Linked DNA regions of Homo sapiens. The protein of the gene in region 2 interacts with the protein of the main gene of each other region in a pairwise test. Each region holds a gene or a part of one and is shown on either strand. Other genes may lie near its edges.

Region 1 (3,650 bases), on a different chromosome or scaffold from region 2:
AACTCGTCCATCTCAATAATCAAAACTATACTCCAAGACCATCACTGCGTCTCACATCAATGAGCAAATGCCACTATAAAATCTAATACTGCAATTCAGGTAGGAGAGAAAGGGGCCTATTTCAATATGCTCTAGGAAGCACTGGTGTCTTCAAGGTTCATCATCTACGCCAGGTGACTGAGAAACTGTGTATAACTGATAGCCCCTCACACTGCAATAAGGAAACTCCTGGACGAAAACCATGTTATGGAGGGAAGCAGGGTGCCTGCCTCTTATAACTCTACTTTGTATATATCTTGTACCTCCTTGACACTCCAGATTCTCCTAGGAGGCTGGGAAATTCGGGCTTCCTTTCCTTAAATGAGAAAAGCCCAGTCTTCCCAGACTGATACTTCCTAGTATACAAAGAATAACAAAATACAGGAAAAAGGAAGACATCATCCCCATTTCAATCAAGTCTGATCCAGGACATAACCAAAACATTGTGTGTTCATTAGTAGTTTGTACTTCTTTTTTCCTTTTTCTTGAGACAGTCTCACTCTGTTGCCCAGACTGGAGTGCAGTGACACAATCATAGCTCACTGCAGCCTTGAACTGCTGGGTTTAAGTGATCCTTTTGCCTCAGCCTCCAGAGTAGCTGGGATTACAGGCGCAGAATCTTCCCGTCAGCAGTTGGCATTTCATTTGTTTGTGAAATGCTTGTTCACGTCCACTACCAATTTTTCTATTGGGGTGGTGCTTCCTATTGATATAAGTCTTTCTTGTAAAGAACAATATCTTGTTGCAAATCTCTTTATCTGTCTTTCAGGTTTTGTTTTTGAGTATGTTTGGTCACATAATAAATGCTATCAAATCTATAAAAAGTTTCCTTTATTGTTTCTGCCTTTGGAGCCACATTTTGAAGGGCTCTGTGGCTGGCTATTAATAACCCTCCCCCCAGTGGCATAAATCAAACTCCCCTTTCCTTCTAACACTATGACAAGAATCCACTGCAGAATCTTTCTGCATTAAGCACATATTGGTTTAATGAAAAAGAAATGTTTTTAACCGTAATGAATGCTGTAATAAAAGCCACAGAAAAATTCAGAATACAATACTTATTTTTTTAAGTTCTAATTAACTTAACCTTTAAAATCATTACAGGGATTCTTCTGTTAGTTCAATTTCTATACTTTTCTTAGAAACCTTTATCTAGAATTGTTAGGGAAATGCTCTATCTACAAATTCCCAAACTTGATATTTCACTACTTCATTACCAAGATTCTCATTGCTTACTGCTTCTCAATTCATTTAGTTCATCAGGCTTCTTATAAAACAAGTAAGTGTTGGGGCTTGGTCTTACACCCAGGCAATCTGACTCTAGAGTCTTATCTCTGAACCCATTTGCTATCCCTAAGCCTACCAGGCCACAAAGTGATACCAAAAAGTAACAATTAACCTAGTCTCCTATACAGCAGCCTCACCACACTTCACCCCAGGTTTCCCCCCAATTGTTTAGAATTTGACTTCTCTATAGATTGCCTGGCACACTACCTACGGTGGTTCTTCTTCCCTTACCATGTGCTGATCTTCCTCCTCACCATCCCAGTGAAAGGACTTACCTCCAACAATACAGGAAAATCAGCAAAAGTGCACAGGAGCTCTGCCACATGCTTTCTTCTCACTCGGACCCCATTCTGTTTCTTTCTCAGACAACTCTCCCTCCTTACCACGGTCAACATTTGTCACTTGTGCTCCAGATGGCTAACTCCATCACCTCCAATTGCTCTCTGTCCACTGACTTCTTCCCCTCAACCTTCAAATATGAAGAGGTCTCATCTATCTTAAAATTCAAGTCACTTAAGGCAATATAAGACTCTCTCACTTCTTAATGTATTCAGCCTTCTCTGAAATTGCATTCACATGATTATCTGACTTCTTCTCCTTCACCCTGAACTGTACATTTTCCCCTCCAAACCTACTTCTAGAATCTCTCTTCCAGTGGCTTCCTGGTTTTCCCACTCCTCTGACCCCATGCCTTTCTTCCAGTTTCTTCTTTGGTCTATGTCAAACAGCCTCTCAGGCAGTCTACTTCAAATTAGCCTCTTCCTTCTATTAATTCCTAACCGTGGGCTCCAATGGAAGATTCAATCCACCAGTTCTTTCTCTCTTTGTGGTTGTCTCAGAATACCCAGCAGATGACTGCAGAGAGTCTAACGTAAAGCTTTCAAGTCCTCCCAAACCTTATCTCCAACCTGCCTGTAGCATACTTTGACTTAGATATCGCACCTTAAATTTAACACATCAAGTCTAATTTATCATTTGCACAATTTTTATTTCTTCTACAACCAGCTCTTCCCTATTCTTAAGTAACATCTTTATTAGTTTTCCAGCCACCAAGTTTAGAAACTTAAGGATATATCTCCGACATCTCTTTCTCATTACTTTATAGCCACATAATCACCAAGCCTTCATGGTTTTTTGTTTTATTTTATTTATTTATTTATTTTTAAATCCTTCTCTTTCCATGTCTACCTTTACCAGAGATTTATCATCTCACACATAACTCAATAGCTTTCTTACTGATCTCCTGGCACTGGGCTCTATCCCTCCAGTGCAAACTGCATGTTCAAACACTTTCAGTGACTTCCCAATGTTTCCTTATTCTGGCACTCTAAGGCCCTAAAATTCTCACTGGAAGTCAACCTTTCTGAGCATCTCCTCCACACCACCATACTAGGCTCCATGAGGAACACCCACTGAGGTCAGGCAGGGCTGCTCACTGCCTCTGGATCTGTGCTATTTGATATGATAACCACATGTGGCTACTGAAACATAAATTAATTTTTTAAAAAATGCTGTTCCATGTGTGGCTACAGCTACTGTATTAGCACAGATGTGGAACATTTCCATCACTGCAGAAATTCTATTGGACAGTGCTGCTCTACAGATACTCAACACTCATGCTTATCTCCCAGTTTTTCATGCCATTACTCTGTCTATAATGTCCCTCTTCCTTCTGCCTATGCAAACTCACATGTCCTTCCAGGCCACAGTGGTCCTGATGTGAGTTGTCTGTACAATTTACTCCTATACTACCTTGTAACGGCTCTTATAATGTTGCTGCATTTAATTTTTCATGTTTGTGTATACTCTAATTATTAAGCCTCAGAACTAATAAATATTCAGGGAATAAATGAAGCATATACTTATTACAATACTGCAGCAAAATGATCAAATAAGGGCCCATTTAATATCCCTCCTTCATTAAAAAGATACGTTTCTTTTCCATCTAAACAAACAAAAGATCTTGCATTTAGTTAACTGAATAATGGCTTAATTAATGCCTAATTATAACCGTTGAGAGAGTCTCCCCCCCACCTTTTTTCTTGAAGTGTTTGAAACTAAAAGAAAAAAAAGCTATAAAGGTCTGGAATACTTCTACTTTGCATAAGCACACCACAAAGAAACCACACACACACACACACACACACACACAAAAAGACAGGGAGAGGATAATACATGAATAGTTGGAGTAACTATACCCTAACAATCTCAGATTGTAGAGCAAAATATCCACAGTACAGCAGCCCTACAATTAAGGGGAAACTACAAATAAAGCATTAAAACTTATGTATAAAAATATATTCTGAATCAACAGAGAGACCCCT
Region 2 (3,650 bases):
GCTTGAAGCCAGGAGGCTGTAGTAAGCCAAGATCGCGCCACTGCACTCCAGCACGGGCGACAGTCAGACTCCATCTCAAAAAAAAAAAAAAAAAAAGCTGATCGGATGGGACCATTCCCCCTCCAGCTGGCCCATGTGCTGGCCCCCTCCCCAGGCTGTCCCCTCCCCGGCACATACAAGTTCTCTAACTCCCGGACCCACCCTGTCCAGCTAAGAGCTACCAGCACTGATTCCCCAACCCAGGTCCCCCAGATCAAGAGTAGAGGCAGCACAGTCAGGTATGAGGGACACAGGGGGCACTGTCCTGGAGGGGCGGGGAACAGGTGCCCCTGGCTAGGCACAGGGGTGATGCCGACCACTCTACCCATCAGTGAAAACATTCACAGGCTGCCATGGGAGGGGGACCAGTGGGCAGGAAGCAGAGCAGGAGGCTGCAGCCAGCGGGCAGGTTGGGGAGCTGGGCTGGGCAGGGCAGGGGGCCACAGGGGATGGGAGAAGGACTAGCGGGACATGGGGGTGGCTGCTGGCAGCCCCCCATCTGGTAGCAGTGGGCCCATCCCTCCTCTTCAACCTGAAGGCCAAGACCTGGGGCAGAGCTGGCGGAGTCCCCCTGTTCCCCAACCACAGGTATGGGAAGTGCCAGCGGGCTGAGTGGGTCAGACTACCCCACATGTGGGACAGTGACACAGGACGCTCCGTGCCCATCCAGGCCCCCAGTGTGCAGACGGACAGATGGTGGGCCTGGGCGGGCAGCAGGCCTGGCTGTGGAAGGCAGACGGCCACTTGCCTCCTGCACTTCAGTTTCCTCACTGACCCCAAAAATCATACCAGAACCTCAGGGGCGCTGAAGCCCTCGGGGCAAGCAGGGTAGCCCCCAGCCTTCCCCGGGCCCACCATTCTCGGGTTCCAGCCTCTGCCGCCCGCGCCCAGGCTACTGCGTCCCTCCTCCTGGGCGCACCATGTTCTGGCCACAATGAACTCCATTCAGCCCCATGAATGAGCCCTCTCTGGCCATCGGCCTCTGCCCTCACTGCCCTCTGCCTGGAATACGCTCCCCTGCCCCCTCCTCTCTGCCTGGCTTCTTGAGAGTCACCCTCGGGTCTGGACTGAAACGCTGCTGCCTCCAGGAGGCCTTCCTGACTGCTACCTCCTCACAAATGTAGAGTAAATGGCTCCTGCTACTGACAGCTGCCCCTGAAAGCCCTCCGTGTGCCATGAGACTTATCACCTGGCACTTCTGTGCTGCACCTGAGCAGGGACCACGCTACCTTGCTGTGGCCTGGGCAATGCTGGCCCAAGGGCTTCAGAGGCTGAAGGGCACAGGTGCCTACACACAGCACAGCACATGCCAGACCGGCGGCTCTTGGCTGGTACCAGGGCTATCTGCCTCTGGGGGCATCTGGAGTCGTGGTGACAGGGGCTCCACTCTGCACAGCAGGCGGGTGGGCAGGCAGATTCCTCGGGGTGCCCGCTGCGGGCCAAGACCCTGGAGGAGCAGCTCTGTGCCCGGCCAGCATGTATCCTTCCTTCTGCCCCACATTTCCTGACAGCCTCTCTTCCCAAGTACCCTGACAGGAGGGTCAGGCTCCCTAGCCGGACTCCCCAGGTGGCGCAGGCTGGAAAGGGGTGGCGCCGGCTTCCTTGCCGACAGGCAGGACAGGGTTCCCAGCCTGCAGAGGTCCAGGCCAGAGCCTCTGCTCAGGAGCAGGAGCCAGTCGGCTCGGGAGGAGGGAAGGCAGGCCGCTGTGCGACCTTGGGCCGTTCTCCGCACTGTTCTGGGTGCCAGCCCCGTCCCCACACACGGCACCTCCCACTGGAGCCGATCACCTACAGCCTGAGGCCCCTGCAGCCTGCTCTGTGGCTCTGTCACCCCCTCCCCCAGCCCAGCATTCCGCACCGCGTGATTTATGGCTCCTGTCCGCCTGGCGCGGTCTCCATCCTGGAGCCGGCCGGCGGCTATTCCGGGGAAACAGACCAGAGCGGTGGGCCTCACGCTGGACGGTGGGTCACAGCCAGAGGAGGGAGTGAGGGAGAAGCCGGTGGAACTGGGTCCTCCGGAGGCGGCCCCCGGGCAAGGCCAGCACCACAGAGTGCACCCTGGGGAGGGACACAGCCCAGGGTCAGGGCGGACAGATGGCATCTCAGGTCCTAAAACCATGGGGACCACTGCTTCGGGGCCAGGGGCTATGCTCCAGGAAACTTCTGAGGACCGAGGTGGCCCCCAGGGAGTCCCCCAAGAGCACGGAATCCAGGAAAGGAGGTTCACCTGGCGGCCTGAGATGGAGAGAGAGCCAGTGGGAGAGAGAGGCAGGGTGGGGATGGCCTCTTTGTTCTGAGCCGCCAGCACAGGCACACTGGTGTAGACAGGGGAGCAGGCTCTCCCGGAGATCAGGTGACCGGGGTCCCTGGTGGCTCAGGGCACAGCGATGTATTGTGGGACGGAGCTACTGGTCCCCGTGCAGGAAGGAAGCTGGTCAGCCCCGTCCCCCGCCCTGGACCAAGCCTGCCCTGCCGCTCCCAGGAAAGCCCAGCCTCCCTGTGATGCAGGTCCTTCCCAAGGCCCAACCTTCAGAGACAGCCAGCTCTGCCCAAGAACCTGGCAGGGGGAACAGCTTCCCTCATGAGAGAGCAAAGGCTGGGAAAGTCAGTCCGATGGAACTCAGGCCAAGACCCTGAGTCCCCCAGGACAGGTGCCACTGGGCCAACCTGCTCCCCAGGAGGCTGCTGCTAGACACCTCCTGCAAGAGAAAAAAGGTGGAGGCGGAGCCTCACTTGGAAGGCGGAGCCTCAGGCTGGAGGGAGGAGCCTCGGCTGCCGCAGGAACCACCGACAGCACCTTCCTCCCTCCTCCACTTCCTCCATCCTCACCTGGAAGCACAGCCCCTCCAGCCTAACCTCACTAAGTCCCAGGGCTGCAGATGGGAGGGGAAAAGCAGCCAGTTCCCCTTCCCCCTACCCCCATCAACGCTGCCTCCCTGGGCAGGGGAGCGGGGGCCAGCTGGCACCCAATGGACTGAAGCGTGCCAGAGAAGGGCCCTCAGGCCACAGCAGGGGCCAGGCAGGTTGCTGGGTCAGCAGGGTGGGAGGGGGCATGCACAGGGTTCTGAACCTCGTGGCCTTGGTCCTGTTCCCTGCTGCGTGCCCACGCCTGGTGCCCATCACGCACCCACCCAGCAGGCGCTCCGATGTTTACTGTGCGAAGGAAAGAGTGGGGGCAGGGGAGGGGAGGCAGGAAGAAGAGACGGAGAGACCTCCAGGCACACAGAGGACTTGGTGAAATCTGAGCGCCTCAAGGCACAGGTCCGCAAAGGCCCAGGACGTTCCGCTCCCTATCTGGGAGTCCCAGAGGCTGCACACTCTCTCTGCCCTGGGGGCTGGGGCTGCGGAGGCCTCCCTGGCCCTGAGCTCAGGGCTATGGCTGAGGCAGAGACTGGGCTCAATGCCCACCTGCAGCCTGAATGGCCACGGCTGCTGGGGAGGCACCAGGGGCCTGTCCACACTGCTGTGGGCTATGAGGTCCTGACACACAGTTCCTGCTCAGTCAGTGCTTGCAGACAAAGACACGAGAGAGAGAAGCGTGGAGCCCAGCACCTCTCCTCCGCCTGGGATCGCCCTGAACCCCCAGCACGCCCGGTGCACACAGCCTGGCA

Evidence for each region. The genes of interacting proteins can lie anywhere in the genome.
Region 1: the proteins of PIAS4 (region 2) and SMAD1 interact in a two-hybrid assay, tested with the Homo sapiens proteins (2 studies listed by BioGRID and IntAct).

What each region holds. Positions count from the first base shown.
Region 1 is NC_000004.12:145,488,305-145,491,954, reverse strand, and holds part of SMAD1 (mothers against decapentaplegic homolog 1), read right to left. Parts: intron 1,679-3,650; exon of another isoform or gene 1-1,678. UniProt on the Homo sapiens protein: Transcriptional modulator that plays a role in various cellular processes, including embryonic development, cell differentiation, and tissue homeostasis.
Region 2 is NC_000019.10:4,014,127-4,017,776, reverse strand, and holds part of PIAS4 (E3 SUMO-protein ligase PIAS4), read right to left. Parts: intron 1-3,650.